3 linked regions of the Homo sapiens genome follow. The protein of the gene in region 1 binds, or shares a complex with, the protein of each later gene. Each region holds a gene or a part of one and is shown on either strand. Other genes may lie near its edges. A codon is read from its position in the direction of its gene.

The links.
Region 2: the proteins of PRKAB1 (region 1) and PRKAA2 are in contact, whole or in part, in a crystal structure (PDB 8BIK), measured with the Homo sapiens proteins. Residues at the interface, in NP_006244.2 of Homo sapiens: Pro79, Thr80, Val81, Arg83, Thr106, Ser108, Asn111, Val113, Ile115, Gln154, Val155, Asp159, Phe160, Glu161, Val162, Phe163, Ala165, Leu166, Asp169, Ser170, Lys172, Cys173, Pro186, Tyr187, His188, Gln189, Glu190, Pro191, Tyr192, Ala202; in NP_006243.2 of Homo sapiens: Gly9, Val11, Lys12, Ile13, Thr21, Lys29, Lys31, Asn48, Arg49, Arg53, Asp56, Val58, Ile61, Lys62, Ile65, Gln66, Lys69, Val82 (codon at 2,267), Ile83 (codon at 2,270), Ser84 (codon at 2,273), Thr85 (codon at 2,276), Pro86 (codon at 2,279), Thr87 (codon at 2,282), Asp88 (codon at 2,285), Phe89 (codon at 2,288), Phe90 (codon at 2,291), Met134 (codon at 3,293), Met164 (codon at 4,645), Ser165 (codon at 4,648), Asp166 (codon at 4,651).
Region 3: the proteins of PRKAB1 (region 1) and PRKAA1 are in contact, whole or in part, in a crystal structure (PDB 6C9H), measured with the Homo sapiens proteins. Residues at the interface, in NP_006244.2 of Homo sapiens: Pro79, Val81, Arg83, Leu103, Pro104, Thr106, Val113, Ile115, Asp159, Phe160, Glu161, Val162, Phe163, Ala165, Leu166, Met167, Val168, Asp169, Ser170, Gln171, Arg201, Ala202, Pro203, Pro204, Ile205, Leu206, Pro207, Pro208, His209, Leu210; in NP_006242.5 of Homo sapiens: Gly20, Val22, Lys23, Ile24, Thr32, Lys40, Lys42, Asn59 (codon at 4,566), Arg60 (codon at 4,563), Ile63 (codon at 4,554), Arg64 (codon at 4,551), Val69 (codon at 4,536), Ile72 (codon at 4,527), Arg73 (codon at 4,524), Ile76 (codon at 4,515), Gln77 (codon at 4,512), Val93 (codon at 2,523), Ser95 (codon at 2,517), Thr96 (codon at 2,514), Pro97 (codon at 2,511), Ser98 (codon at 2,508), Asp99 (codon at 2,505), Ile100 (codon at 2,502), Phe101 (codon at 2,499), Met145, Met175, Ser176, Asp177, Gly178, Glu179.

What each region holds. Positions count from the first base shown.
Region 1 is NC_000012.12:119,661,577-119,671,380, forward strand, and holds the start of PRKAB1 (5'-AMP-activated protein kinase subunit beta-1), read left to right. Parts: upstream 1-6,556; 5' UTR 6,557-6,668; coding exon 6,669-6,827; intron 6,828-9,804. UniProt on the Homo sapiens protein: Non-catalytic subunit of AMP-activated protein kinase (AMPK), an energy sensor protein kinase that plays a key role in regulating cellular energy metabolism.
Region 2 is NC_000001.11:56,689,135-56,698,810, forward strand, and holds part of PRKAA2 (5'-AMP-activated protein kinase catalytic subunit alpha-2), read left to right. Parts: intron 1-2,259; coding exon 2,260-2,353; intron 2,354-3,223; coding exon 3,224-3,368; intron 3,369-4,630; coding exon 4,631-4,718; intron 4,719-6,800; coding exon 6,801-7,025; intron 7,026-9,676. UniProt on the Homo sapiens protein: Catalytic subunit of AMP-activated protein kinase (AMPK), an energy sensor protein kinase that plays a key role in regulating cellular energy metabolism.
Region 3 is NC_000005.10:40,772,974-40,782,649, forward strand, and holds part of PRKAA1 (5'-AMP-activated protein kinase catalytic subunit alpha-1), read right to left. Parts: intron 9,582-9,676; exon of another isoform or gene 8,382-9,581; intron 7,366-8,381; exon of another isoform or gene 7,109-7,365; coding exon of another isoform or gene 7,060-7,108; intron 4,614-7,059; coding exon 4,472-4,613; intron 2,531-4,471; coding exon 2,437-2,530; intron 2,000-2,436; coding exon of another isoform or gene 1,955-1,999; intron 1-1,954. UniProt on the Homo sapiens protein: Catalytic subunit of AMP-activated protein kinase (AMPK), an energy sensor protein kinase that plays a key role in regulating cellular energy metabolism.

The sequences.
Region 1 (9,804 bases):
AGTACCCTGGACCAGAAACCAAGACATAAGATCCAAATTATGATCTATGACCACTAACTTTTTCTATAATTCAGCAAGCTATTGTCCCTCCTCATCTGTAACCTATGTGGTTGAACTAGGATTTTCATGCAATTAGTGTGTCTTGGGAGGTGTTTCTGAGTATTTATTTGGAAGGTGCTCCTAAAAAGAGATAAAGAAAAGGAAAGGAAGATAATCAATGAATTCCTTGATCCAATTACTGCTGTGGACATCTAGGGTGCATTTCCACTGGGGACCTCTGAGACACGGTAGGGAATATATCTTAGTTATACGAGAGCTAAAAAGAAATTATTTAGACAGTTAGTGAGGGTAAGAGAGTCCTCAGTAAGGTTTTTCTTTTAATAAAAACGCAGTCTCCAAATCATTTCTTTTTTTAACAAAAAGCAGCCTGAAAAATCAAGCTGCAAGCATAGATAAGCAAGCTAGAGGCTTGCATAGGTAAATACCAGCAGCTGTGCCAATAGAAAACAGATAGCTGGAAACCAGGTATATTCAACATGGAGGTTCCCTCTTCCCTTTTCTTTGTTGCCACGTGTGCAGATAACATGGCACCAGCCAGGTTTTTTAAAATTCCATTTGCATAATAAAAGATTAGAGTGGGATGACCAGCCTCTTCACGGGCTATGAAAATGGCACATCTGGTCCAACCAATCCACTACACCCCATGTAAATCATATACCATCTCCTCACGCTCATCCCTAAAACCAACCACACCTTGCCCCAAACCAGGGAAACCCACTCAGGACCCCTTCTTCTGCATGAGGAAGCTCTCTTCCTTCTTTCATCTATTTAACTTTCCACTCTTAAACCCACTCCTTGCATGGCCATGTCTTCAATTTCCTTAGCATGAGACATCGAACCTCGGGTGTTACCCCAGAAAAATGACGCTGCTTCATTAGAGTTAGCACATCCAAGGGGCAAGGGAACTGGCTCCTCTGTGGTTGGCTGAGGGCTTCTCTCAGGGTGTCTTCTCTGGTCCCCTTGGGTTCCCACTTGTGTCGACAAAGCTTTCTCCAGAAGGCCCTCAGAGTTGCACCTGCTCACAGTTAGGAAGTTTGGGGCATGCGCAGAAGGGCACATGCAGATGGGGTATGATGGTCCCAACAGCATATGTTAAAGTGATTATGAAACTTTGATATTCAAATCCCTGGGAGCTTACATTTTAAAGAGATGAGACAGAGACAGACTTCCTCTCATTGTTTTCACCTCCGTTGGATCTTTGCCTGGATACTGCTTTAGTTTGTCACTTGTCCTCTAGAAAAGGGGTAGAAAGTGTACATCCTTTTCTCCTCCATTCCTTCAAAGCTCTTAAAAGAGGATAGAGATGCCAGGTGCAGTGGCTCACACCTGTAATCCCAGCACTTTGGGAGGCCGAGGAGGGTGGATCACCTGAGGTCAGGAGTTTGAGACCAGCCTGGCCAACATGGTGAAACCCCGTCTCTACTAAAAATACAAAAAGTAGCCAGGCGTGGTGGGGTGCGCCTGTGGTCCCAGCTACTTGGGAGGCTGAGGCAGAAGAATCGCTTGAACCCGGGAGACGGAGGTTGCAGTGAGCCGACATTGCACCACTGCACTCCAGCCTGAGTGAAAAGAGTGAAACTCCATCTCAAAAAAAAAAAAAAAGAGGATAGACTTGAGGTGAACTTTATTAAGAACATTGTGTTACCTTGAACTGGGCACTTCTCCCTTCTAGGTTTCAGCTTACCCTGTGAGTGAAGCTATTTATTTAAAAAAAACTTTATTGAAAATAAAATAAAGATACAGGAAACTACACAAAAGAAATGTATGGCTTAGTAAGTTACTACAAGGCAAACATGTTAATAATTACCAACCCAGGTCAAGAAACAGAATTTTCTCAGACAACCTAAAAGTCACAAAATGAGGCTATTTGCCAATTAAGGTTGTAGACCAAATGCTGTAGAATGAACTTCTTTTAATTCTATGTTGATGACTCTCTGTCACAATATTCACATCTCAGTGCAAAGAGAACACAAGAATGTCTAGCAAGAAAAGATGGACAAGTTTCTCAAACATTGGCAGTGTTACTTACATTGGCTAGGCAAAATTCAGAAGGCCTGGTGGAAATCTGGTTAAGCCCTAAAAGTAAGCTTGTAATTCTATCCTAGCAGCCCACACACATTTGAGTCTGTCTTAGTCAGCTCAGACTGCTATAACAAATCATCAACTGGGTGGCTTAAACAACAGAGATTTACTTCTCCCAGGTCCGAAAGCTGGAAGTCTAATATCAGTGATATAATTTGGATACTTTTCCCCCTAAATCTTACACTGAAATGTAATCCCATGTTGGAGGTGAGGCCTCCAACATGGTGGGAGGTGACTGCATCATGGAGGTGGACTTCTCATGAATAGTGTAGCACCATCGTCTTGGTGCTGCCCTCACAAGATCTGGTTGTTTAAAAGCGTGCGGCACCTCCTCCCACTTTTTTTCTTACTCCCACTCTTGCCATGTGATACATCAATACATCGGCTCCCCCTTGGCTTCCTGAGGCCTCACCAGAAGCAAGCAGATACCCAGAGCCATGCTTGCTGTACAGCCTACAGAACCATAAGCCAAGTAAACCTCTTTTCTTTATAACTTACTCAACCTCAAATATTTCTTTATAGCAATACAAGAATGGCCTAATACAATCAGGGTGCCAGGATGGTTGATGTGTGGTGAGGGCTCTTTCCCTGAGTTGCAGATGGCCGCCTTCTTGCTTTGTCATCACATGGCCTTTCCATTGAGCATGGGCGTGAATAGACAGCATGCGAGCAAGCTCTCCAGCGTCTCTTCTTCCCATAAGTACCCTGATCTCATCATGGGGGCCCCACTCTCATGAGCTCATCTAACCCTAATTACCCCTTGAAGGCCCCACCTCCAAACATTATAAAATTGGGAGTGGGAGTGCAAATGTATGAATTTTGGGGGGATACAATTTAGTCTACAGCATAGTCCAAATGTGAAATTTCTTCCTCCAGCTACCGATGTTTAGTGAGAACACTGCCTGTTCTCACCACATGTGCATATGTGTGTGGACTCTTTCCTCTGGAGGGCAAGAACTTGGTTTTGTTCACTGTTGTAACCAAGAGTTACAACAGTGCCTGGCTCATAATTGGCACTCAATATTGCCATTGAGTTATTTGTGATCAGAGCCCTGGCTGTTCTTAGATGGGGAGGGTTCTTCAGAACAGTACAAATGTTTGTAGACAGGCCAGCTGGGGAACCAAAGGTCTTTTTGATGAGGTGCCATGACCATGATGTAGTGGGGAGTGGCCAGGTGATCCAGAATTCAGTCTCAGTATGACCTATGATCATCTGAGTGACCTCAGGCAAAACTGTTCGATCTCTGGGACTTAGACTCTTCCTTATATAAAACAAATGGGTTGGTCAGTTCAGAAGTGCTATACTGATTCTAATCCATCCTATGGAGGAGGCCCCAAAACATTATCCTTAACCCTTTTAATCATAAATTTAAGGATAAATGAGATTTTATCTCACTCTGGGTGACTTTTAAGGACTTGAAAACCTACTTCTTTTTGTGCTTGGAGCTGGAGTGAATTTGAAGCCAGGGTTGCGGGGGTGGGGGAGGGGTACTCCTAGCTGTGGCTGTGTTAAAATTGCCCTGGTTTGTTTGGGGGAGAATCTAGGGTATTTATCATTTGTCTTTGCCCTGGTGCCAGACAGACAGCAGTGAGTAGATGATGCCTTTTACACAGCAATGTGCTAACAGTTATACTTCCTGGCACACCTCCAGCCCCCAAGATGGAATGGTCTGACATCCATATCAGCAGAGAATCAGAGAAAGATGAGACGCTCTGATGCTTAGGAAAGTCACAAACCATTGTTACACAGATAAGTAACACAAAATGACCCAAGAGAGACACAGCTGGGACCCAAGTAGACACTTGTAATTGGCGAGTCTACCCTACCCATGATTTTCAATATGGGGTCAATAGCTGATAGATACCAATGTTAGTTTCTTTGTCATGAAATCTTGATACAATGTGGTAAGAGTTTCCAATCAGCAGTTGGTGGCATCCTCAGGATATTGTTGATTGTATTTGACATCAAGGGCCACCCATGCTTTCACTGTTATCTTATTCAAGCTAGTGCAGATGTCTTAAAACTTTCTTCATGCATCAAAGCATCTGCATAGCTCAGATAAAGAATCCACAGCTCATGTGTTCTTTCTTATCTCTCCGGCTGTTTGGGAGAGATTTCAAAACTCAACACCCCACTGTCTCATGTAACCAAGTCAGGGCCACTATTAGAAAAGCAGCTCAAAGAAGATATCCTGGGTCATCCACAGTATCTTAGCTTATTTAATTCAGCAAGCACATTCAACATTTCTGATTATACTGAATACATTCAAATTCTCAGTCATCAGCTTCAGGAAGACCCTCCTGGCTCCCATCCCTTTTCCTGGCTCCCATCCCTTTTCCTGGCCTGGCTTAAGTCCCTTCTGGGCTCCCACAGGATCCCTTACCTAGCTATATTATTGCTTTTCTGTGGGTCGGTGCCAGCCTGTACTGTATTAATTCCTTTGGGGCTGGAACCATATCTTATTTTTTTAAATTAAAAAGTAGTACATCCTCACAATAGAAAACTTTTCAAATACAGAACTATATAAATGAAAAGTGAAAGTCCCTTTTCTGTCTGCTCCTATTTGCAATCTCCCTCCTCTCCCCACAGAAGACCACTATTAACAATGTGTTGTATACCCTTCCAGAACTTTCCATTTGCTAGCCTAATAGTGCTAATAAAAGTGTTAACAGTTATTGAGTGTTTACTAAGAGTCAAGTGCTATGCTCAGCATTTTTATGCACGTTCCCAATTAATTCACAAAACAAGCCTATGAAGTAGGTGTTATTTTTGTTCCCATTTCACAAAAGAAGAGACTAAGGTGACAGTTACTAAATGGTAAAGCCAGAATCTGAACATGGCCAGGCTGAATTCAGAGCTCCTGCCCTTGAACTTGTTCTCTCACTTGCTTCCGGACCTTGCAATATCATAGACACTTCCCCATAGTGACCTAAAAATGGTTTCTCCCTTTTTAAAAGTTGCTTGGTATTCTACAAAATGAATGTATTCCATTCATTTTGCCATTCTCCTACTGAACAACTTTTAGGATTTTGTAGTTTTTCATTTCCTTATTTCACCAAGTGTAAGATTCCATTATTGTAAAAAGCATCCAGTTTCAGAAATTAAAATATATGGGGGCATGGGGGGTGACAAGTGCATCTTAGAATATATTTTTGCATGTAAATATTTTGTAGATAATGCTTGTAAATAATTTTCATGTGTGTATTTCTGCACAAGTTTCCTAGGAGTAAAATTGTGTGTCAAAATGAAGGTGCATTTTTAAATTTTGATGCATACTGCTGAATTCCCCCCAGGAAACCTTATCTTAGTCATCTTGTGTTCCTCATTTCCTTAGCACAATGTCTGGTACTTTTTTAGGTACTAAATAAATGTTCAGTGGGTGAAATGCATGACCTGACCCGGCAAATGCAAAGTATTTTGAGATATTCACACACCAAAAAACCCACAAAATATGACAATGACTGACAATGAGAAGATGAGAATATTTTACTACCGTATTTGTATGCACTTCTTGTTGAAGCACTGACCAGAGTAAATGACAAACGCTAATGCATCTTATGCAGAAGGATGTTTCCGAAGTGATTACAAGATATCTTGCAAAATTACCTATCAAAAGATTGCACACTCAATAAAAATACACGAATAACTCCAGCATTTTACAACCCCCAACCTACTAGACATAAGAAATTTCCAGAGATCTTATGGTCTGCCATTTTTTCAAATACCTGCAAGACTGCCTGCACCCCCGACCCTAATCTGTAGAAATCATGATTCTGCAGGTCTGCAGTGGGGGATGCATTTAACAAGCGCTCCAGGTTAACCTAATGCACTGTAAAGCGTGAGAACACGTGCATTAAAAGGGCTTTAAGAAGTGGAGTTTCTGAATCAGATTTGCATTTTAGAAAGATCCCTCTGGCTGCAGAGTGTAGAATCAACTATAAGTGAGCAAAGATAGCTAAATGGCATTATTCAGCCCAGCGCATGAACGGCTCAGATTGCCCGCGCGCTGGGGTGCCCCCTGCCGGCCCTCGGCAGCGCCTCGTCCTGGGCCTGGCCCTGGGCGGCCGGCTGCTGACTGCGACTGCGCGCTCCGAGGCCTGCAGAGACGGCCCGGGGCACCTGTTACCGCACCGCTCAAGACCGGAAGCGGAAATGGAATCGAGATAGCCTCGCGCGTTTAGCTGGCCGCCGCCACCTCCACGCCCTAGGCCGGGCCGACTTACGGAGTCGCCGGAAGCGGAAGTCGCTGAGGGGTGGTGAAGCGGTTGGGAAAGTGTCGGTTTATCTTCGCGCCCCTTGCGTTCTTGCCGCGGCTTGCCTGGGCAGGTAAAGCGCGATTGCGAGAGCTCGGCAACCCTGCCGACTCAGCCGGAACCGGCTCCCGGCCCGAGGGGCGTGGTGTCCTGGTGCTCCGACTCCTTCCGCAGGCTCCTTGGGACCCGCGGTTCCGGGAGTCCCTTGCTCAGGGTCCCTTTCCTGCAGTGAGGCGCCGTCCGCCTTCCCTGTGTCCCCGCAGACCCCCATCATGGGCAATACCAGCAGTGAGCGCGCCGCGCTGGAGCGGCATGGTGGCCATAAGACGCCCCGGAGGGACAGCTCGGGGGGCACCAAGGACGGGGACAGGCCCAAGATCCTGATGGACAGCCCCGAAGACGCCGACCTCTTCCACTCCGAGGAAATCAAGGTGCGAGCGGTGTGGAGGAACCCGATTCCCCTTGACTAATGTTGAGGAGAGGAACCCTCCACTAGATTCCCGTCACATCCTTTCGAAAAACACCAGAACGGAGAGGGAGGTGGTACATTACCCGGTGCACTTAAAAGCCAGATGGTCCTGTAAGAGTTCTCTTAGCGGTCCAAGAACCTGTGTCTAATTACCAATATGAGAAAGTCACCCTGAGGGAGGAGGTGCTCACTTGGTTTAACATCATTAAGGAGAAAGCAGCTCTGGGACAGAGTTTCAAATTCTTAATTAATTCAGAGTCGAGCTAACAGTAATTGAGCCCCAGCTTCTGCTTTTCTCTTAGGTGTAATTAATTGCACTGCTTTGAGACAAATTCCCTCACCTTTACACAAACTGGAGCTTTTGTAAAAGTTAGTTTGGGAATTTATCCATTTTGGAGGCAAACCAGGTACATATACAAGCTGAAAGTAGAGCGGAACAGCTGACGGCAGTTGCCAGAGGTGTTTAGTTCTGCCCAACACTTTTGATTCACCCTACTTATTTTTTAAAAGACGGTGGTCTCACTAATTAGCCGGGCGTGGTGGCGGGCGCCTGTGGTCCCAGCTACTCGGGAGGCTGAGGCAGGAGAATGGCGTGAACCCGGGAGGCGCAGCTTGCAGTGAGCCGAGGTCGCGCCACTGCACTCCAGCCTGGGCGACAGAGCTAGACTTCGTCTCAAAAAAAAAATATAAATAAAAATAAAAAAGACGGTGGTCTCACAATGTTCTCCAGGCTGGTCTCGAACTCCCGGGTTCAAGCAATCTTTATGCCTTGGCCTCCCAAAGTGCTGGGATCGCAGGCGTGAGCTACGGTGCTGGCCGGTTCAGCCTACTTTTTTTTTTTTTTGAGACCGAGTCTCGCTCTGTCGCCCAGGCTGGAGTGCAGTGGCGCGATCTCGGCTCACTGCAAGCTCCGCCTCCTAGGTTCACGCCATTCTCCTGCCTCAGCCTCCCGAGTAGCTGGGACGACAGGCACCCGCCACCACGCCCGGCTAATTTTTTATATTTTTAGTAGAGACGGGGTTTCACCGTGTTAGCCAGGATGGTCTCCATCTCCTGACCTCAGGAGATCCGCCTGCCTCGGCCTCCCAAAGTGCTGGGATTACAGGCGTGAGCCACTGAACCCACCCTACTTATTTTTTTTTTTTCCTTCTTTGAGATGGAGTCTCACTCTGTTGCCCAGGCTGGAGGGCAGTAGCACAATCTCGGGGCACTGCAACCTTCGTCTCCCGGACTCAAACCATCCTGCCTCAGCCTCCCGAGTAGCTGGGACTACAGGCGTGTGCCACCATGCCTGGCTAATTTTGTGTATTTTTGGTAGAGGTGGGGTTTCGCCATGTTGCCCAGGTTGGTCTTGAACTCCTGACCTCAAGTGATCCGCCCGCCTGGGCCGCCCAAAGTGCTGCGATTACAGGCATGAGCCACCACTCCCGGCCTCACCCTGCTTTTTTTTAAAGCGTACATAGAAAAGTCTTTCAGCTTCTAGAGGTCAGTGGGCGGTGAGGGTCTGTCTGAAGGAGGCAGCCAGCAGCTACTGAACTTCTCTCTAGTGTTGTTTAAATATGACTTAATCGTGCTTAAGCAGGCCAGTGCAAACATTTTTCTTCCTGCTGCAGCCTGTTTAAATTCAAAAACTCAGGTGACTTAACTCCTGCTTCAACCACACTCCTGTTAACCACCTTCATATGGTGGATATTTCCAGCCGCAGGGCTCAGTCCAAGGACACTTAGTGATTCTGGCAGCTGGTATTTATGTGTTATGTCCAAAAGGAACTAATTGTTTCAAGGAACAAAGTAGGTTTAGGAAAGATAAAGCTGCCCTCTGCCCAACATACCCTGTTAGTATCCAATTTCATGTTAATCATCATCCATTTAATTGCTTGGCAGCTCATTCCATCTGTGTTTGTCCTCATGTTGAGCGAGGTGATCACATCTCACACCTTCTTTTGGATCTTAGTTTTGAGCCTGACTACAAAGAGGCTGCTTTTATGTGGCCCTACAACCTGTGGTTTGAACTTGCTCTCTGAATTTGTTGCATTCTTGAAGAGCTGTGTGCAAAGTGAACTTTAGAATCATGTTTCTCTAATGACTTGACGTCCTTTCCCCAGGAGGTAATTTTGGTCCCTGGTCCCAAGAAGGCTATTTAAGACACCAAAGGAATCAAAACTACTTTCTTCAGAAGTATTTGTTCTGTTACTATTCCAAAACTCCTCCAGGAAATGTTGAGCACACACATCATCTATGGGGAATGATTTCAAGCAGCGTCCATTCTCACTTCATTAGAAGTTACTGAAATCCCCAGATACCAAAAAAGTCGTGAATTCTTTTAACTACACTAGGGTGCTATTTTGGTCATAATTAGTTATCCTTAGTGTGAAGTGATTCCAGTCTGTTATTTAATATGTAGATCTTGTTAGAATTCAAAGAATACAGGCATCATTTGGATAAGCTGAGGTCGGTATTTGAGATGAAGGTGCTAGAAGCCTGCTTAACTCCCTGAAGAGTCTTTTCCAGCCTGAACCTTCTGCTCTTTTTAAGTCTTTGGCTTCTGACTGGGAAAAAATCTAAAAGGTGCATGACTACATATGTCATCCAGATAGATTTGGATGAGTTTATTTCTTATTCTGGAATACCTCAGTTATACGGAGCTTACCACACTGGAGGTTATCATTTATCCTAATGAGGGTTCAGTCTTTGTCTTGCTTTATTCCCCAGTCCCTAGACAGAACTTTGTGAGTAGTTTTTCCCTTCCTCAAAATCTGGATTTGCCTATTTTCAAGTTGACAGCTCTAGAATTGTTCCTCTTAAATTTTCATGTACAGTCATACATCACTTAATGACAGGGACATATTCTGAGAAATACATCATTAGGTGATTTTATCATTGTGTGAACATCATAGAGTGTACTTACACAAACCTAGTCTGTTCTCATGCTACTATGTA
Region 2 (9,676 bases), on another chromosome or scaffold:
TAGGATGTACAGAGCACAAAAGTGATTGAAAATTGTTACTAAATCAGACCAACCTACAGTGAGGTGCTACAGCAGATGCACCTGCCCTACAGTATTCAGTTTACGTGATCACTTTGGTGCTTGTAAAGATAGCTTTTATAAAACTATTTCTTCTAGAGTTCTCAGTATAATTACCTTTCCAAAGTTCATTTGAAATAGTCTCAATTCTTCTTCAGTCATATTCGTTTATTTTATATAAATTAGAATACCTTGCCATGTTTCTTCCCAAAGACTAATGATTGCCATTCAAAATATTTCTTCTGGCCAGGCTTGGTGGCTCATGCCTGTAATCCCAGCATTTTGGGAGGCCAAGGCGGGCAGATCACTTGAGGTCAGGAGTTCGAGACCAGCCTGGCCAACATGGTGAAACCCCCCTCTCTACTAAAAATACAAAAATTAGCCGGGCATGGTGGTGCATGCCTGTAGTCCCAGCTACTCGGGAGGTTGAGGCAGGAGAATTTCTTGAACCCAGGAGGTGGGGTGCGCAGTGAGCCGAGAGCATGGCCGCTGCACTCCAGCCTGAGTGGCAGAGCAAGACTCTGTCTCAAACAAAAGAAAAAAAGTAACTAATTTTAACGTCTCCAAAACTTGGTTTGGTAAAATTGTGTATAGGGGTGTAAGTTGTAGTTTTTGGGAAAAAAATTTATTTTATCAAATAAAGCTAATTTTTTTTCTTAGTTTTTAATGTGCCCAGCTTTGGATGCCTAGAAACACAGACACACAGACACACACACACACACACACACACACACACACACACACACTCTTAATTTTTCATGATGGGAATTGTTTAACATTTACAAAAGTAACGCGGTGAAACCCCATGCATGTCTTATTCACCTTCAACAGTAGTCAATTCATTGTTTTATCTACGCCAGATTATTTTGAAGCAAATCTCAACATTATCTTTTTAATCTGTAAACTCTTCAGTATCTACTCTAGAAAATACTTTTTTAAACTCTAAATAACATAAGCATAGTATCATCACATCTTTTTTTTTTTTTTTTTGAAGCGGAGTCTCGCTCTGTTGCCCATGCTGGAGTGCAGTGGCACGATCTTGGCTCACCGCAAGCTCTGCCTCCCGGGTTCACGCCATTCTCCTGCCTCAGCCTCCCGAGTAGCTGGGACTACAGGTGCCCGCCACCATGCCCAGCTAATTTTTTGTATTTTTAGTAGAGACGGGGTTTCACCGTGTTTGGTTTAGCCAGGATGGTCTCAATCTCCTGACCTTGTGATCTGTCCGCCTCGGCCTCCCAAAGTGCTGGGATTACAGGCGTGAGCCACCACGCCCGGCCTATCACATCTTAATTAAAATAATTAACAACATTATCCACCACTAATCAGCATGTAGACTTTCCTGATTGTTTCATAAATGGTTTTTAAAGTTGGTTTATTTGAATCAGAATCAAAATAAGTCTATACAGCATAATTGGTCAATATGTCTCTTAAGTTACTTTTAACGTATAGTTTATCCTTTCCCTTTTTTTCTTGCATTTTATTTGTTGAGGAAATGGTCATTTTTCACTTCCTGGATTTTGCTGAATGTATCCCTGTAGTATCATGTTACGTGTCCAGGAAAATATATGTATGTTTTACAGAAATGAGGTCTTGCTATGTTGCCCAGGCTGGTAAAATACTGACTTTAGAAGATATATTCCACTTAATTGCCAACATGAAGCCTATGCTTTTCAAAATCGGTTCCATAAAATCATGTTGAAGATCAGTTATTTTCTTTTCTTAGCACTTTCATGTATGTTCTGTTTTAGTTTGTTTTGCTGTCAATTCCCCAAAACATTGCCCTGAGCTCAAGTGATTCTCCCACCTTGGCCTTCCAAAGTGCTGGGATTACAGGCATGAGCCATAGTGTCTGGCCCAAGTATATTTTCTGTTTATCTTTAAATATGTGATACCTCATCTCCTTTTACTGTAAACAAATTTTTGTTTATATGGAAAAATTAGTTGTTGAAGAGGGAAAGATTTCAAAAATTATGTAAACTTGAAAGGGAGGATCTAAAGGAACGGCCGTGAGCCTCAAGAAATAGAATAATTTTGTAATGGTCCGTGTTTATTGCTCTGTGATTATTTTGATAACATGTAATTTGTTGCCATCTTAAAGTATTATAAAACATTGAAATATAAAATTGTAGCAAGAGTAGATATACCAGTTTGATTTTGGTTAAAGTAACATACTTTGTTAACTTTTTTTAATTAACAAAAAAGATACCAGGTGATCAGCACTCCAACAGATTTTTTTATGGTAATGGAATATGTGTCTGGAGGTGAATTATTTGACTACATCTGTAAGCATGGACGGGTGAGTAACATACTATCTGGTACACTAAATCTCTAAACTAATAAAAAGGAAAGTATTGGGACATAGAACAATGCAAAGATATCTTCAAGGTTGAAGTTGCTTTTATGGTAGTGCTCAACTAAACATGTAGAGTGTTAGATAAATTTTCTTTCTTAAAAAGCATTCCTTTTGAAATACTGATTTTAGAAAATATGTTTCACTTAATTGCCAACATGATGCGTATGCTTTTTAAAATCTGTTCCATAAAATCATGTTGAAGATCAGTTATTTCCTTTTCTTAGCACTTTCACATATGTTCTGTTTTAGTTTGTTTTACTGTCAATTCCCCAAAACATTGTGCACATTTAATAATATTAATTGAAATTTAAATATTTCTGCTTAGCGACAAAGACAAACTTGTCTTTTGACATGTTGAGCTTTGACAAGCTTTTGGTTGGTTTATTTTGTCTGATTTGTTGAGAATTCCAACATAATTCTAGCTTGCTTAATTATATTTAGCCTAATTATGAAATTAAAACTCTTGTCAAATAGATGTCTCAGATTTTTTTTTTTTTTTTTTTTTTGAGACAGACTCTTGCTCTGTTGCCCAGGCTGGAGCGCAGTGGCATGATCTCAGCTCACTGCAACCTCTGCCTCCTGGTACAAGCAATTCTCGTGTCCCACTCTCCTGAGTAGCTGGAACTACAGGTGCATGTCACCATGCCCGGCTAATTTTTGTATTTTTAGTAGAGATGGAGTTTCACCTTATTGGTCAGGCTGGTCTCAAACTCCTGACCTCAGGTAATCCACCTGCCTTGGCTGGGATTACAGGCATGAGCCACTGTGCCCAGCCCCAGATATTCTTAATGCAGTTTCTTTTGTGCTTGATAGGTTGAAGAGATGGAAGCCAGGCGGCTCTTTCAGCAGATTCTGTCTGCTGTGGATTACTGTCATAGGCATATGGTTGTTCATCGAGACCTGAAACCAGAGAATGTCCTGTTGGATGCACACATGAATGCCAAGATAGCCGATTTCGGTATGTAACTCCAGGGTTGTTCAGAAAGGTACTAGCTACCTTTTAAAGCATAACAACTCATTGAACTAAGAACTTTACTTTTCAACCTTGTACGTTCTGTACCATGAAAAGGAATTAGCTGAAATCTCCTCAGTAGCTTTTTTTTTTCATTTAATTAAATTTTCATTAATTTTCATTAAATACACTTTAAAAATGCAGATACCTCTAGAGAAGTTAGAAGGTTGTCATCAAGATAAATCCATTCAATCTGCATTTTCTCCTAAGGAAATGATGCATAACTGTTTTTTTGTTTTTTTTTTTTTTGAAGAGAGGGGAGGAGTCCCAGACTTCTTTGAAAATCTCATGAAAGTATGGGCACTTTCCCTGATGAATGCATATAAACCAAGGTACCTGAAAATATGCATGCAGTTGGAAAAAAGCCCTTCTGAACTGATCCACAAAGAGGTCCTTAGGTGTAACGTCTAATAACTTGATTAGAGAACAGTTTTTGTCAGGGGTAAAAGGTACATAAAATGTGATTTTTATACTCCAAACACTTTCTGGGATAAACATACGTGGAAAGGATGCCTTAATAGGGTATTTGAGAAAAAGACTAGGAAGTGAGAGATTAAAGAGAAAGAGATAGAAAGGTACAGGCTATTGTTGCCTATTTGTGGTCTATACCTTGTCTTTAATCTAAAAACCTAGAAACTACTTTCTCTATTTCTCTTCCTTCTCTAAATCATGAAACTTATTTATTACTATAGCTCAGCTAGATTTTTGGTTCAATAGATTATTTTTTCCATGTTGAATTAAATATTTCTAAATTAAAAACTTTTGGAACATAATCTCTTTATGAGGTGGGGCCCATCTGGTTTCTAATTACAGAATTTAAAGAGGCTTTTGAAAGCACAGGGCAAAAAAGTAGTAGTCTCTATTTTATTCTTTCAACTATGGAAATAGGTAAATAATATTTTGATGTTTTCATGTTTGGGAAAGTTAATATGCTTCAGAATAACCTCATTTGTGATGGGAATCAACATTTTTATTTAGAAAGGAAATTTAGTTTCACTCATATATGTGATGTGCTTTAGCTTTTTGTTACAGTGTAAGCACTCTGAGACGGTCTCTTTCCAGTTAAATGCTTTCCACTGCTTTTTTTTAATAACTTAAAAAAAAATGATATATGGAGGATCCAGGACTTGAAATTTTGCTCATATTTATATGACTTTATCTACTTTTAAAAATATCTAGCACCAAGTAAACATTACTTTTATTTTTAGGATTATCTAATATGATGTCAGATGGTGAATTTCTGAGAACTAGTTGCGGATCTCCAAATTATGCAGCACCTGAAGTCATCTCAGGCAGGTAATAATCAGTGAAGCATAAGCTTTTTGTAATCTTGTGTTCATTTTGATAACATTTAATTACAATATATTCTCTATGGAAGGTAAGATTTTAACATGGTAGAAATGGATTATTCATTTATTTTTCCACTGTTAAAGGGATAATGGTTATATCAAAAAATGTTAAACATTTCATTTAGATGTCATTATAAATATACTTACGAAGTTTTCCCCATTAGAAAAATAACTGAAGTAGATCCTGATTTAACATATCTTTCATTTTACAAAAGTGCAGATAAGAGAGTAAGAATTTGCTAAATTTAAGCTAGTGTCATTTATTTATTAGATATAGTTCTTTAATAATACCTTGCATATTTTCCAAAGTATATAGAGCATTGTTTTATATTTTGTGTTTGGAAAAATGAGATTTTGGGGGAAAATATTGTTTCATGAAATTACACAAGTAGAGATTGTGTAGTTACTCATAACTTATTCATTGGTACATTATAAAAATGTTTATACAGATTGCAGTGGTAAACTCAAGTCTTTCTACAGTGATCAACGTGTGATTTTAAAAGTTAACAGAATCCTATAAGAGAAAATATGGTTAAAGTATTATTGCAAATAGCAGATAAAGAATTATCTTAGTCCATTTGGGCTGCTATAAGAAAGATACAATAAAGGTGATAGCTTATAAACAACAGAAATGTATTTCTCACAGTTCTGAAGTCTGGGAAGTCCAAGATCAAGATTTGGTATCTGGTGAGGGTCTGCTTCCTAATAGACTACTGTATGCTCACTGTAACTTCACATGGTGAAAGGGACAAGGGATCTCTCTGGGGTCGCTCTTATAAGGGCACTAATCCCATTCATGAGAACTCTGCACTAGTGACCTAATCACCCCCCTTAAGTCCCCACCTCCTAATACTATCTCCTTGGGGGTTAGGATTTCAACACATGAATTTTGAGAGGACATAAGCATTCAGTCCATTGCAAGGAGTTTGAACAATACAGCAAATGATGTAAACAATCACCATTTTTTATATAAACAGATTATATTCTTTTCATTAGAATAGTAAAGATTTACTTTGTTACCTCAGACCCAGGTTTGAGTATGGTAATATGCTATCATGGGAATTGTAATGCTGTAGAAACGTAAGAGAAAAAAGGAATAATACTATAAGCATAGGTTATCTGGATCAAAGATGATTTTAGTCATATGAGTTAGGAAGTGATGAGAATAGAAATAGTAAGTACTCAGGATAATGTGATACAGGATAAATACTGTCTACACAGTACTAATTAAGTACTTTAATGTTTTAAATATCTCTCTCTCTATATATATGATATATTATATATATATATATATATATTTTTTGTTTTGAGATAGAGTCTCGCTCTGTCACCTAGGCTAGAGTGCAGTGGCACAATCTCAGCTCACTGTACCACCTCCTGGGCTCAGATGATCCTCCCACCTCAGCCTTCTGAGTAGCTGGGACTAAGATGTGCACCACCATCCCTGGCTATTTTTTGTATTTTTAGTAGAAACAGCGTTTCACCATGTTGCCCAGGCTGGCCTCAAACTCGTAGCCTCAAGCAATCCGCCCGCCTCAGCCTCCCAAAGTACTAGGATTACAGGTGTGAGCTACCGTGACCAGCCTTAATATTCTTTAAAGGTGTGCCAGGGGTAGAAATTCTATTATATGTATACATTATATATATGTTTTCTTTCTTGTAATAGTTCTTTGGGAAAAAGATTTAACCTATACACCATAGTATTTTTTCAAGTTTGTGGTCATCTACTTTGTTTCCCTCAAAAATCAACCACAGAAAGTATTATATGTTTTAATTCGTATGTTTCAGTTAAATGAATTTGTGACAAATAAAAATACCCTATTCACTTGGCAGGCTTGAATAGTAGTTGGCTAGCCCCATTACTCTCTTTGGGGAACAAACACTGAATATTGGGGAGCAGCCATGGACTTCATTAAAGACCTTGGAAATGAATATGTACTGAATGTAGACTACCTATATATAGAAGTAGGGTACATAGAGAAAAAGTGATTCTTGCATTTCAGGTTTGTGTTGTCATCTTTTTTCTTAGATTGTATGCAGGTCCTGAAGTTGATATCTGGAGCTGTGGTGTTATCTTGTATGCTCTTCTTTGTGGCACCCTCCCATTTGATGATGAGCATGTACCTACGTTATTTAAGAAGATCCGAGGGGGTGTCTTTTATATCCCAGAATATCTCAATCGTTCTGTCGCCACTCTCCTGATGCATATGCTGCAGGTTGACCCACTGAAACGAGCAACTATCAAAGACATAAGGTGATTTTTCTTTTTGTTTCTGTTCTGCATATTTTCTCATAGGAATAATAATGTTAATTAAATGATTCTCCCAAAGTCTCATTTCCTGCCCTCACCACCTCACCCCAGTACTCATGCTTCAGCCACATTGAACTTGTCCTTGTTTCTCAAACCTAACATAGATTTTATGCCTTCATGTCTTTGTTTATATTATTCACTTTGCCTTGATGTCTTTTCTTGTTTCTTTTTTGACCTGATAGACTTCCATTCATCCATTAAAGTTCATGCCACCCCTTTTGTGATTTCCACACGTGCTTCCATTTCTGTTTTATCAACATTTTGTTCATGCTTTTATTATTTAATCCTCATCCTGTATCTAGTTATTTCTCAGTGTGTCTTTTTTCTCTCTTAAATTATGATATCAGGGTAGAGAGTGTGTCTTATTCATCTTTGACTACACAATGCTAAAAGGCCTGGAAAGATGGTATGCTTAGAAAGTGTCTGAAGAAATTTCAAATGGAGAAATAGGGTGAGATTTTGTATTTTACATATGGTTAAAGACATAAAGCATAAAAAGTTTTGCTAAGTTTTTGAATTCAATAGCTGCTAGTCAGCTTACTGTGAAGGCTTTTTTGTCACTTGAGAAAGTTTGGAAAGTGCCATTGCTGATGCGCCTATGAATATGACCTTTGTATATCCCACACCTGTGTATAGTAGCAAGATGATTCACTGCATCCTGCCTATGACTTATCAAGGCATGTTTCTTAGAGGTTTTTTCTTCTTACCTAAGATTTCATCCGTGTTTGTTTACAAACATGTTCTTTTGACATCTTTCCAGAACTCTTTCCCCTTTTCATCATTAGCCAGCAAAGAATTTTTTTTTTTTTTTAAGGCAGGGTCTCACTCTGTCGCCCAGGCTGGAGTGCAGTGGTGTGATCACAGCTCACTGTAGGTAGCCTCAACCTCCCAAGCTGAGGTGTTCCTCCCACCCCAGGCTCCTGAGTAGCTGGGACTATAGGCACAAGCCACCACACCCAGCTAATTTTTTTTAATTTTTTTATTTTTAGTAGAAATGGAGTTTTGCCATGTTGCCCAGGCTGGTCTTGAACTTCTGGGCTCAAGCAATCCACCCACCTTGCCCTCCCAAAGTGCTGGGATTACAAGTGTGAGTCGTTGCACCCAGTTCCAGAAAAGACTGTTTTGAGACCTCTGACCTTTGGAATATTTAAATGATGGCTGAGATAGCTGTTTATGTGACTGCTGCTGATTTCATACAGGCAAGGACTGATGATTCTTTTTGCATTTATGTATCATTTTCTTTTCCCAGCCTTTCTTCAGTGTTCCAAACCTCATGTATAACAATGTAAAAGTGTAAATTAGCCACCAGATTTAATTATAAAAATGAACTTAGCAGGAAAAAAACTCTTTGTGTTTATAGTTCTTTAGCATATATACTTCTGTTAATGACTTTTCCTTAGAAAATTAGACATGCTGATATATTTGCAGCTGCTCATATCAGCATATACATTTAGAATAGTAATAGGCTGGGGGCAGTGTCTCATGCCTGTAATCCCAACACTTTGCGAGGCTGAGATGGGAAGATTGCTTGAGCCCAGAAGGTCAAGACTAGCCTGGTCAACATAGTAAGCGCCCATCTATATTAAAATTTTTTTTTTATTAAAAAAAAAGTCAAATGGTAATGATTCATTGCTTTAAAACAGGTGTTTGTATATTTATATACTTCAGAAGAAAAATGTAAATATATTTACTGGGAAGAGTTAATTTGTACGTAGGTAGATGGCATGAAAGTATCATTCATCTCTATACTTTAATATGATAACTTGAATCTATAGTTTTCATCTTTTTAAATTTATGTCATATATATATTTACTTATCTATATTCAATTTTTTAATGTTTGGGAATTCTCATTTTTTTAATTCTTTTTTTTTTTTTTTTTTAAAGAGATGGGGTCTTGCTATGTTTACCAGGCTGGTCTTGAACTCCTGGCCTAAAGCAGTTTTCCCATCTTGGCCTCCCAAAGTGCTAGGATTACAGGCATAAGCCACCACGCCTGGCCAATGTTTGGGAATTCTTGATTTGATAAAATATAGTTCAATAGGGAAAAGAATTACTAATCATGGAAAAATTACAAAATACCAAGCATTCTGCTTTATGGCTTAACTTATGTTATTGCATTGACTTTTCATATATAGCTATAAACCATTTTACAAACCATGAAACTGAAGCTCAGAAAGGTTACATCATGATTTATGTATCTGTTTGCCCCTATTAAATTATAAATTACTTTAAATTAGGGACCAATTATTAATTCATAGCAAAATGCACAAGGTCTAACACATATTAAATGTTAAGTAAATCTGTGTTTGTTGAAAATTACACAACTAATAAGGAGCACAATGGGGCTCAACTTGGAACTTTACCTGAATTCAAAACCTGTGCCATTTATACTATTCCAAATTGTTACATCAGTTCTGTGATATCTATCCTTTCAATCTATCATATTTTATTTATCTCTTATGCTACTACATACTTACTGTCTCAATATTATTTTTGTACATCTATTATTTTCTTGTAAGATAGCCATTGGAAGTTCGGAAATATATCTTCATATTTATTTGCTTATTTAACCATTTTCGCTTTTATTCATTCA
Region 3 (9,676 bases), on another chromosome or scaffold:
TTACCACTTTTTTCAACATAAGTGACAGCCATTACTTGGACATGCCTGCTCCCAAGAAGTCATATTTAATAAATAAGCTATTAATCCTCTAGGCGAAGGACTCCAATATGCAATTCTCTAACACAGGTCACAAATTAGCATTCTAAAACCAGACTTACACCTTAAAGGGCATGGATAATATGGGAGAAAATACAAATCAGTAATTTATTTTGAAACAAGAAACTATTATAAGATACCATTCCTCTAGAAAAATACTAATCCTTTAGCATTCTAATACTTTTATTTCTAGATTTGTAGGTTCATGGGGAAAAAAAAGAGTATCTGTTCAAATATGAAAAAATAGGAGAAAACTTGATTAAACAAAATATAAAAAGTAAAATAGACAGGCTACAAAAATGAAAATTATACTGTATTAGTAACAAGTACAATTACAAAGGATGGAGAAAGGGATGTCTATAAAGGAAGGTTAGAAAAGTCAAAATACATTTCCAATTAAATGTAACAGATTAAATCTTTTGTCTCCAACTCTTGAAACATCACTAAAATGACATCAGCAATAAAACAGGCATATAAAGACAAAAAGAACAAAAGAGACAGCAGTAATCAAGAGGAGTCACCAAGGATGACAATAGATAAACAGTAATAAAGACTAAGCCTACAAGAGAAAGCTAAAACCTAAGCCTATAGGGGTAGAAACCAGTAAAAAATAAACATCTGCATACAAAGCCTGGGAAGCCTTAGAAATTGGAAACACAGGGAACTGCTCAAGGTAGAAGTGAGAGATGAGCTGAAAACAGGACAAGTGCTTGAAGTAAGAAGCTTTTAAACTCACCCATATTGGGGAATAAGACCTATAATTTACTCTAGTAAGGCTGAACCAGCTCTGCTCTCAAGGACACCAAGGCAGGGATAAGGCATCCTAAGGAAAACATGGGGGCTAAGACAAAGTCAACATACTAACTAGTGAGACTTGCATCTCTTTTCTCCACTCAGCTCCTGGAGCACTGGCAGCTAAGCTAAGGCCTTTAAGGAAATGGGAAGGTTTCTTCTGGAGCAAATATCTGATCCAAGAAAACATATTTGTTATTATTAGCATTTGGTATACAGTAATAAAACAGACAAGTCCCTACCTATTCAAGCTATGAGAAAACCCAGCAATCAGTAAGTCCTACCCACATGAGCCTGGCATTTAATACCCTATTCTTAAATATTTAGTGGACAGCCAAGAATCACCAAATATCTGAAGAAGGGCCATGCATCAAAGACAAAAATGAATAAAATGAATGCAGAGAGCACAGAAGGTACAGAACAAGACGGAACAGAGGAAGACTTTTTTTAAAATGCCATCCTCAGACTAGGTTATTATATCTGTGAGGCAAATAACAGCAGACTAAAAAAATGAAAATTTCAGAAAATAAGAAACTTTTGAAATAGAAAATACGGGTGCTGAAATTTTAATATTCAACTGGTAAAACTGAAGAAATACCCACAAGGTAAAACCAAGAAATAAACAACAACAGAAAAGATAAGAAAAATATATATCAATTGTGCCTGTTTCCCATTTCTCCAGGCAGAATTTTTTTTTTTTTTTTTTTTTTGGTAAGGAGAAGCAGGAGTAAAGGGGAGTACCTGAAATAGAAATGAATCATGTTAAGAAATAGTAAAATCAAAATTAACTTGGTTAATAAGTTTGATTTTGATAAAAGTAAATAGACATGCTATATAGAACAAATGAATGAGTAATGTAAATAACTTAAAATTGAGAGAAAAGCTCTCTTTTCAGGGCTAGCTACAGCTCTCCCACAAAGGGGCTTTTGCATACCACATAACCTGGGTATGAGAAAAAGTATGGGCAGAGGGCAGTGTTGAGTTTTTGTATCTGTAACTTAAGGTAGTGTTCAAAATGTCCTACAAAGTTCCTTCCAGCTGTAAATTCTTTATATCTAATTCCTACCTCCTTCGTGGAGCCTGTTTTTACTACTCCAGGTACATCAGATTTCTGAAACCAAAAAATGAATGCAATTTAAATGTGGCTAGAATTGACTAGCAAGGCCTAGATCTTTAAGTAATAATAATATATTTTGTAACGATTAATTACATTAAGATACATATTCAAAGTATTTGTATACCCTGGAAGCATAAGTCTGAGGATTATGAGTTCTGGGGGCTCAAGCCAATTCCGTCATTAATAAATCACGTTACTGTGAGCAATCATATAAGCCGCGAGGCTCAGTATCCACATCTGTATAAACAGGCTAAGGAGATAATCTTTAAGATCCTTTCTAGTTCTACATAGTTTATGATTCTAAACAAATATATGACTAAGGGAACTGGTTATTAAATAGACCTCTTAAAATTGGTTGCTGACATTTTGATGCTAGTAAAGGATAAAGGGGAGTTACAAAATACATACAGAATTAAAGCAGAACAGCTTACCCTTCCATTCTTACAGATATAATCAAATAGCTCTCCTCCTGAGACATATTCCATCACCATGAAAATATCAGATGGTGTACTGATGACCTGGTACCTGGTGAGAGAAAACATTGTCTACAAATATTAAAACACATATATTCATTCATTCAATAAATATTTACTAAGCACCTATAGTATACCAGGTACTAGGCTAGGAGCTAGAAAAACTGCAGGAAACAAAAATTCTCTGCTCTCATGGAGTTCATGTTCCAGGAACCAGGAAACAGACACTAAATAAATAAGCAATATCTCAGGTGGTGGAACATGCTATGAAGAAAAATAAAGCAAATGAAGGGGAATCTTTGTATACAGAGTGCTAAAGGAAAGCCTCTAATAAAGTAACATTTGAGCTGAGCCTAAAAGAAGAATGGGAACAAATTATGTAATTATCTAGGAGGAAAGCGAAACTGGGAGAGGGAATAGCAACTGCAAAGGTCCCCAAGTAGAAGCCTGCTTGGCATGTTCGAGGAATATTAGAGAGAAATAGGATGTAGAGTCAAAGGTGTTAACTGCAGGCCAGAAGACACAGAATTTTACAAGCCATGATAAGGCTTTGGCTTTTACTCCAAGGAAGATGAAAAGCTATCGTACGTTTTAAGCAGTCATGTGATCTGGCATATTAAAAGTAAAACTATGGCAGCAATGTGAAGAATTAACTGTCAACAGTAAAGGTAGCCACAGGAGGTTACTTCAGGATTTCATGAGACAGATGGTGGCTGAGACCAGGTTGACAGCAATAAAGGAACTGAGAAGCAATCAAATCCTAGCTTGATTGTGAAGGAAGAAATGAAATGCATGGTAGAAAGTGAAAGAAACAGGGAAGTTAAAAATGGTTCCTAAGTTTTAGCCCTGGGTCATTGGCTGTTAGCCAAGATGGTGAAAACTGTGGGAAGAGCAGGTTTGGGAGAGTAATAAAGAGTTCATTTTGGGCCGGGTTGAGTTTTAAATGTCTTGCGAACATCCAAATGGAAATGTAAAGTCAGCAGTGAGCAAATAAGTCTGGTGTAAGAAGAGATCTTAAAGCAAGAGATGTACATTTAGGGGTGGTCAGCATATGGATGGTATTTAAAACCTAGCACTCAACAAATGAGAAGAGGTAAGAGTGAAACAAGTTTGAGTCAGCCAGTTCAGGAGAAAAACCTAAGCATCTTTAAGTTATTGCCTGCATAACAAAGCAGAAGCTGAGCAGGAAATAGTTATTTGTAGACTCTATAACTGGCAACTGTAAAACAACAGTAAGATTACTGCCCTTTTGAAACCTTGGATTCCTGAAATTTTGTTATCTATATGTTCAGGTATAAGCAGGATGGGGAAAAACCCTTTCTACTACCGCATTCTCACTAGTGAGGCTAACTGACATCATGTGGGCATTTGGAGGTCAAGAGTTTTTACTAGCAGATCACTGTTGGTTTTACAGCAATGGGGCACCAAACATTACCAGAAGAGCATCTTTCCAGGAGACAGGAAAGAATGAGAAGATAACAGCTGATAAGCACAAGGGCAAAACATGAACACAGGCTTAAATGACCATCAATGGGGTTAGAAAAATACATGAATGGGAAGAAACTTTTATTTTTTTTTGGGACAGAGTTTCGCTTTTGTTGCCCAAGCTGGAGTGCAATGGCACGATCTCAGCTCACTGCAACCTCCGCCTCCCAGGTTCAAGCCATTCTCCTGCCTTAGCCTCCCGAGTAGCTGGTATTACAGGCGCCCACCACCATGCCCAGCTAATTTTTGTATTTTTACTGGAGACAGGGTTTCACCATGTTGGCCAGGCTGGTCTCGAACTCCTGACCTCAGGTGATCCGCCTGCCTCAGCCTCCCAAAGTACTGGAATTACAGGTGTGAGCCACCGCACACAGCCTAGGAAGAAACTTTTCAAAACCCTTAGGAAACAAAAAGAAGTGTCAGTCATTTTTCTCACTTGTCACATTAAGTAGGTTAACAAAAAAGATGAAAAGATGACTGGACTATATTTAATATAAACAGAGCTTACAGTTTAATTATATGAGGATGCCTGAAAAGCTTGAGGTTCTGAATTTCTCTGCGGATTTTTCCTACCACATCAAGGCTCCGAATCTTCTGTCGATTGAGTATCTTCACAGCTACTTTATGCCCAGTCAATTCATGTTTGCCAACTGTAAAAGAAGTAATTTAATAAATTAGTACTAAGTATGATTAATAATATATTTACACATATTCTGGCCCGGTGCAGTGGCTCATGCCTGTAATCCCAGCACTTTGGGAGGCCGAGGCGAGTAGATCACTTGAGGTCAGGAGTTCGAAACCAATCTGGCCAACATGGCAAAACCCCATCTCTACTAAAAAATACAAAAATTAATGGCCGGGAGCGGTGGCTCATGCCTGTAATCCCAGCACTTTGGGAGGCCGAGGCGGGCAGATCACCTGAGATCAGGAGTTCGAGACCAGCCCGGCTAACATGGTGAAACCCCGTTTCTACTAAAAATACAAAAAATTGGCGAGGCGTGCTGGTACACAGCTGTAATCCCAGCTACTCGGGAGGCTGAGGCAGGAGAATCGCTTGAACCCAGGAGGCGGAGGTTGCAGTGAGCCGAGATCACACCACTGCACTCCAGCTTGGGCAACAAGAGCAAAACTCTGTCTCAAACAAACAAACAAATACAAAAATTAGCTGGGTGCAGTGGTGGCACATGCCTGTAATCCCAGCTACTTGGGAGGTGAAGCAGGAGAATCACTTGAACCTGGGAGGCAGAGGTTGCAGTGAGCCCAGATTGCACCACTGCACTCCAGTCTGGGGTGATGATTGAGACTCTGCCTCAACAAAATAAAAATAATAATATATTTAGACATATTATAAGAGTAGTCATCTAGCATCCTCAGAAAATAGCTAAGCAAATATAAGTTATTTTCTCTTTTGCCAGATTCATCCCAAATGTTCAGATGTTTAAGAGTGATTACATAGGAGAATACATAAGAAATTGGTAACAGTGGTTTCTTCCAGAAGAGAAAGCTAGAAGACTAAAGGAAGAGGGGAAGGAGACTTTTTTGCTGTATACCTTTTCGTATTTTTAAATTCTTTTAATTTTTCACCTTTTAACCTATCATACACACAGACTAAAATTTTTCTTTTAGTATCATTTATATGGATATTAAAACATATAGAAATTGGTGTAACCAGCATTATATAGTCAGATACAGAACAGTTCCATCATCCCAAAAGACTCTCTCATGTCATAGATACATTTCCCCATCCATAACCTCTTATACCTTTGAAATTCTGGTTCATGTGCATGTGGTTTCTAGTTTTTTTGGTTTCTCTGTGTTTTAAATTTTTTTTCCTGTTTTTTAATTTTTTTTTTTTTTTTTTTTTTTTTGAGACAGGGTGTCACTCTATCACCCAGGGTGGAGTGCCGTGTCACAATCAGAGCTCACTGCAGCGTTAACCTCCCCAGGCTCAGGTGATCAGGTGATCCTCCCATCTCAGCCTCCCAAGTAGCTGGGACTACAGGCAGGCCCCACCACACCCAGATAATTTTTTTGTATTTTTCTGTAGAAATGATGTTTTACCATATTGACCAGGATGGTCTCAAACTCCTCAGTTCAAGCAATCCACCAGCCTCAACTTCCCAAAGTGCTAGGATTATAGGTGTGAGCCACCATGCCCAGCCTCTATTTTTTTAAATGCAGTTAAAAATAAAGGGAAAAAAAAAATCAAGTCATTTTATCTTTCCATTTTAAATGTTATCACTAGACAGTCGGTGGTGACAGAATTTGGGTTTAGGACATAATCCCAAAAGACACAATCCCAAATGCCATAATCCCAAATGTTGAAATCCCAAAAGATCAAAATCCCTAAAATCTAAAATTCCAAAAATCACAATCCCAAAAGAACAAAATCCAAAAAATTGAATTCTGGAAAAATAATTTGTAAAAAGTTCTCTAAAAGACACTTATTTCCATTTTTAAAAGATTTATTTGAGAAACATAAAAACACAACGGAACAGTTCATAGGCCCCTTTACACAATAAAATAGGCACTAATAACATATTTTTGCAAGCATAAATACTCAGGTATACTAACAACCATTGCATGGGTATAATAGGAACAGAGAAAATGTATTCATGAAGAAATAGATTAAAAAGCAAAATGGATAAACACGTATCACTATGGTTGGTAATCAGGTGCACCCAGATTCATAACTGCGGTCATCTGAAATACCAGACAACCTGAATCTTCTGACAAGATCGATCAAAAACTGCAATGGGTCACTACCGTTTGCACAAAAACTGCAATAGAGTCACCCAAAGAGCCAAGATCTTGAGAAATTTTATCTTTCACAAATACAGATGAACAAAACGGACATCTCTTCATTTACTGAGCAAGTTTCAACATTTTTATGTACATGCACAATGCTTACACATTACGTCACATTGTGATAATGCACTTTCATGGAGTCAAATATGCAAAAAAAAAGTGCATAAAATGAATTAGAATTCTCTAAAAGCCTTTACAGAATTTATACCTGCAGTATTAGAAATGATGCAAAGATAAAATACATAGCATAGCAAATTGGCACTATGTGTGAAAGGGCAGAAGTCATACCTGATTGAATAATTTGGCAGGGGAGCTTTCTTATATTTTTCACCTGCATATTCACTTCTATGATCTTCAAAACATTCACTTGTGTTTAGACTAGAGCGGTTGTGGTCTAAATATTTTGTAAGTATATGCTGACCATTTAGAAATCTGGTTATTGCTTGGCCATTGCAATTAAGTGATTTTCTGTCTTCACAACACCAATAATAATTAGCTTTTAAACTTTTCTCTTTCAGCATTAAGTAGCCTGGTATACTTAATTTATCACAGCCTTTTTGCAAGGGAACAATTTCACAGGTCTCTTCCACTGTGCTGTAAGGAATACAGTAAGAAGGAATGATATTTGGCTTTCTCAATACCAAATCCGTATTAGTCAGCATTCTCGACAGACATAATTCTCGACAGACAGCATTCTTGAGAGACATAACCAATAAGATATATATATACATAGATATATGAGAGACGATTTATTAGGGGAATTGGCTCATGCGATTATAGTGGCTGATAAGTTCCAGGACAGGTCATTTTCAAGCTGGAGACCCTGGCATGCTGGTAGCTTGGCTCAGTCCAAAGACCTCAGAACCAAGCCAAACCAGGTCTCAGTCTGAGGCTGAAAGCCCAGGACCCAGGGGGCTGCTGGTGTATGTCCTAGAGTCCAAATGCCAACAAGCCTGGAGTTCTGATGTTCAATTCAGCAGAAGAAAAGTCCGTTCCAGCTCTCAGAAAGGCAACAATTTGTTTTCTCTGGGCCCCCAGCAGATTTAATGGTGGCCACCGCTATTGAGGGCAGATCTTCCCCACCTAGTCCACTCAGACTCACATACTAATCTCCTCACAGACAAACCCAAAATAATGCTTTAACAAGTTTCTAGGTATTTCTTAATCCAGTCAAGTTGACACCTAAAATTAAATCCATGAATCCACCCCTCGTCAATTTGGCACCCATAAACCATCTCCTTAAACCATACTTAATTTCCAAATAAATACAATAAAAAGGCAATCGGTTCCACCTAATATGATGCAAGTAAAATGATGCAACTATCTTTCATACAACCGAATGTGCACTAATTTCTACCCCAGGTGTTGGCTTTCAGCATTTCAACATTTGGGATTTTAATCTTTCATGATTCTGATTTTCAGGATTTCAGATGTGTGAGATTTTTAGAATTTAGGGATTCTGATTTTTAGAGATTTTGATCTTTCAGTATTTCAACATTTGGGATTATGGCATTAGGGATTTGGTCTTTTGGGGATATGATCACCAGTAGAATTTAGACAGTCATGAGGCTAAGTCTCCAAAAATTTAACCTTTGTGCACCCTTTCTCAGGAACCTACTGGAGAATATATATTCCATCAAAATCAGGAAGAAACCCAAGAAAGATGGCATGGAATCCAGCAAAGAAGGGATCCAATATAGGAGAAAAACTAAGAGAATCTCAAAATGGTGAAGCAAAGTCACAGTAACATATGGAGAAGGCCTAGAAGGCAACAAATCCAGACAGGAATGTGACAGAGAATCCAAGATAGTTATTTCTGAGGGATTTTACAAAGGCACTGGAAGATGTAAGAAATTAAGCTTTAGGTAAAAAAATTAAACAAATGAAAAAAATGAGATAATTCATGAATGCCAGTAAAATTAAAGTTCTGTAAGAAATAAAACATAGTCATAGATACTGACTTAGCAAATAGTATTTACACAGCCACAATTATGAAAAAACCAAATATAGGTTTTATTAAAAGTACGATATAACTATATTAGGAGGATGGGGGTGTAGTATGAAATGTATAAGAGAAAGAAGGAAGGCAACCCTATAATCACAGCTGAAATCAACTGTGGAAATGAAGCACATTCTAATTTCTAATAAGGCTTTCTCCAATCTCCAGTACTAATTAGATGTGATTAAGAGCAGCCAACTTGACTGTTAAAGCTTGCTTCAGGAAGTATCTTTTTTCTTAGAACAAGTATGTTGAAACCTAAGCATGGTGCTAAACACATCCTCCAAGAATCTCCAAGCTCTGGCTTGGCACAGACTTTCTCTTGACAGCTGCTCAGCTGAAACAGGACTGGGAAATAGCCACAATACTGGATAATACTGGTGGACTCAAGACCTGGAAAGAATACTAAGACAGAATCCAATTTGGGCCTGAACTCCCAAACCATCACAAACCAACCAAACTCCTATGATACCCTGCTCAACTGAACTTCAACCCCAATTAACTTTAAGAAATGACTGGAGCTTATCCAAAACTCTGGACATATATCCTGTCATTTAATAAGGAACTGGAATAGGAATTCAAAGCATTCTCTCAAATTCATTATTTTGGCATTATGTACTGAGCATCTCCTACATGCCAGTTAATGCTGCTGGGGAAAACAGTATTGACCAAAAGCAACCTGGGCTATGGGACCTTCCCGGCCTGTAATGATGACAAAAATAACAGTAAAGTGAGAAAAAGCAAAAAGTCTTATAATACAAAAGAATAAAACAAAAAAATGAATAGACATTAAACTCATCCATGAAATGCATGATTGTATTAGCAAAATTTATTAACTATTTTCAGAGTGATAAGAAAATATAGGAGGTATGAAATTAGAGCAGAGCAAGAAGAATTTTACAATAC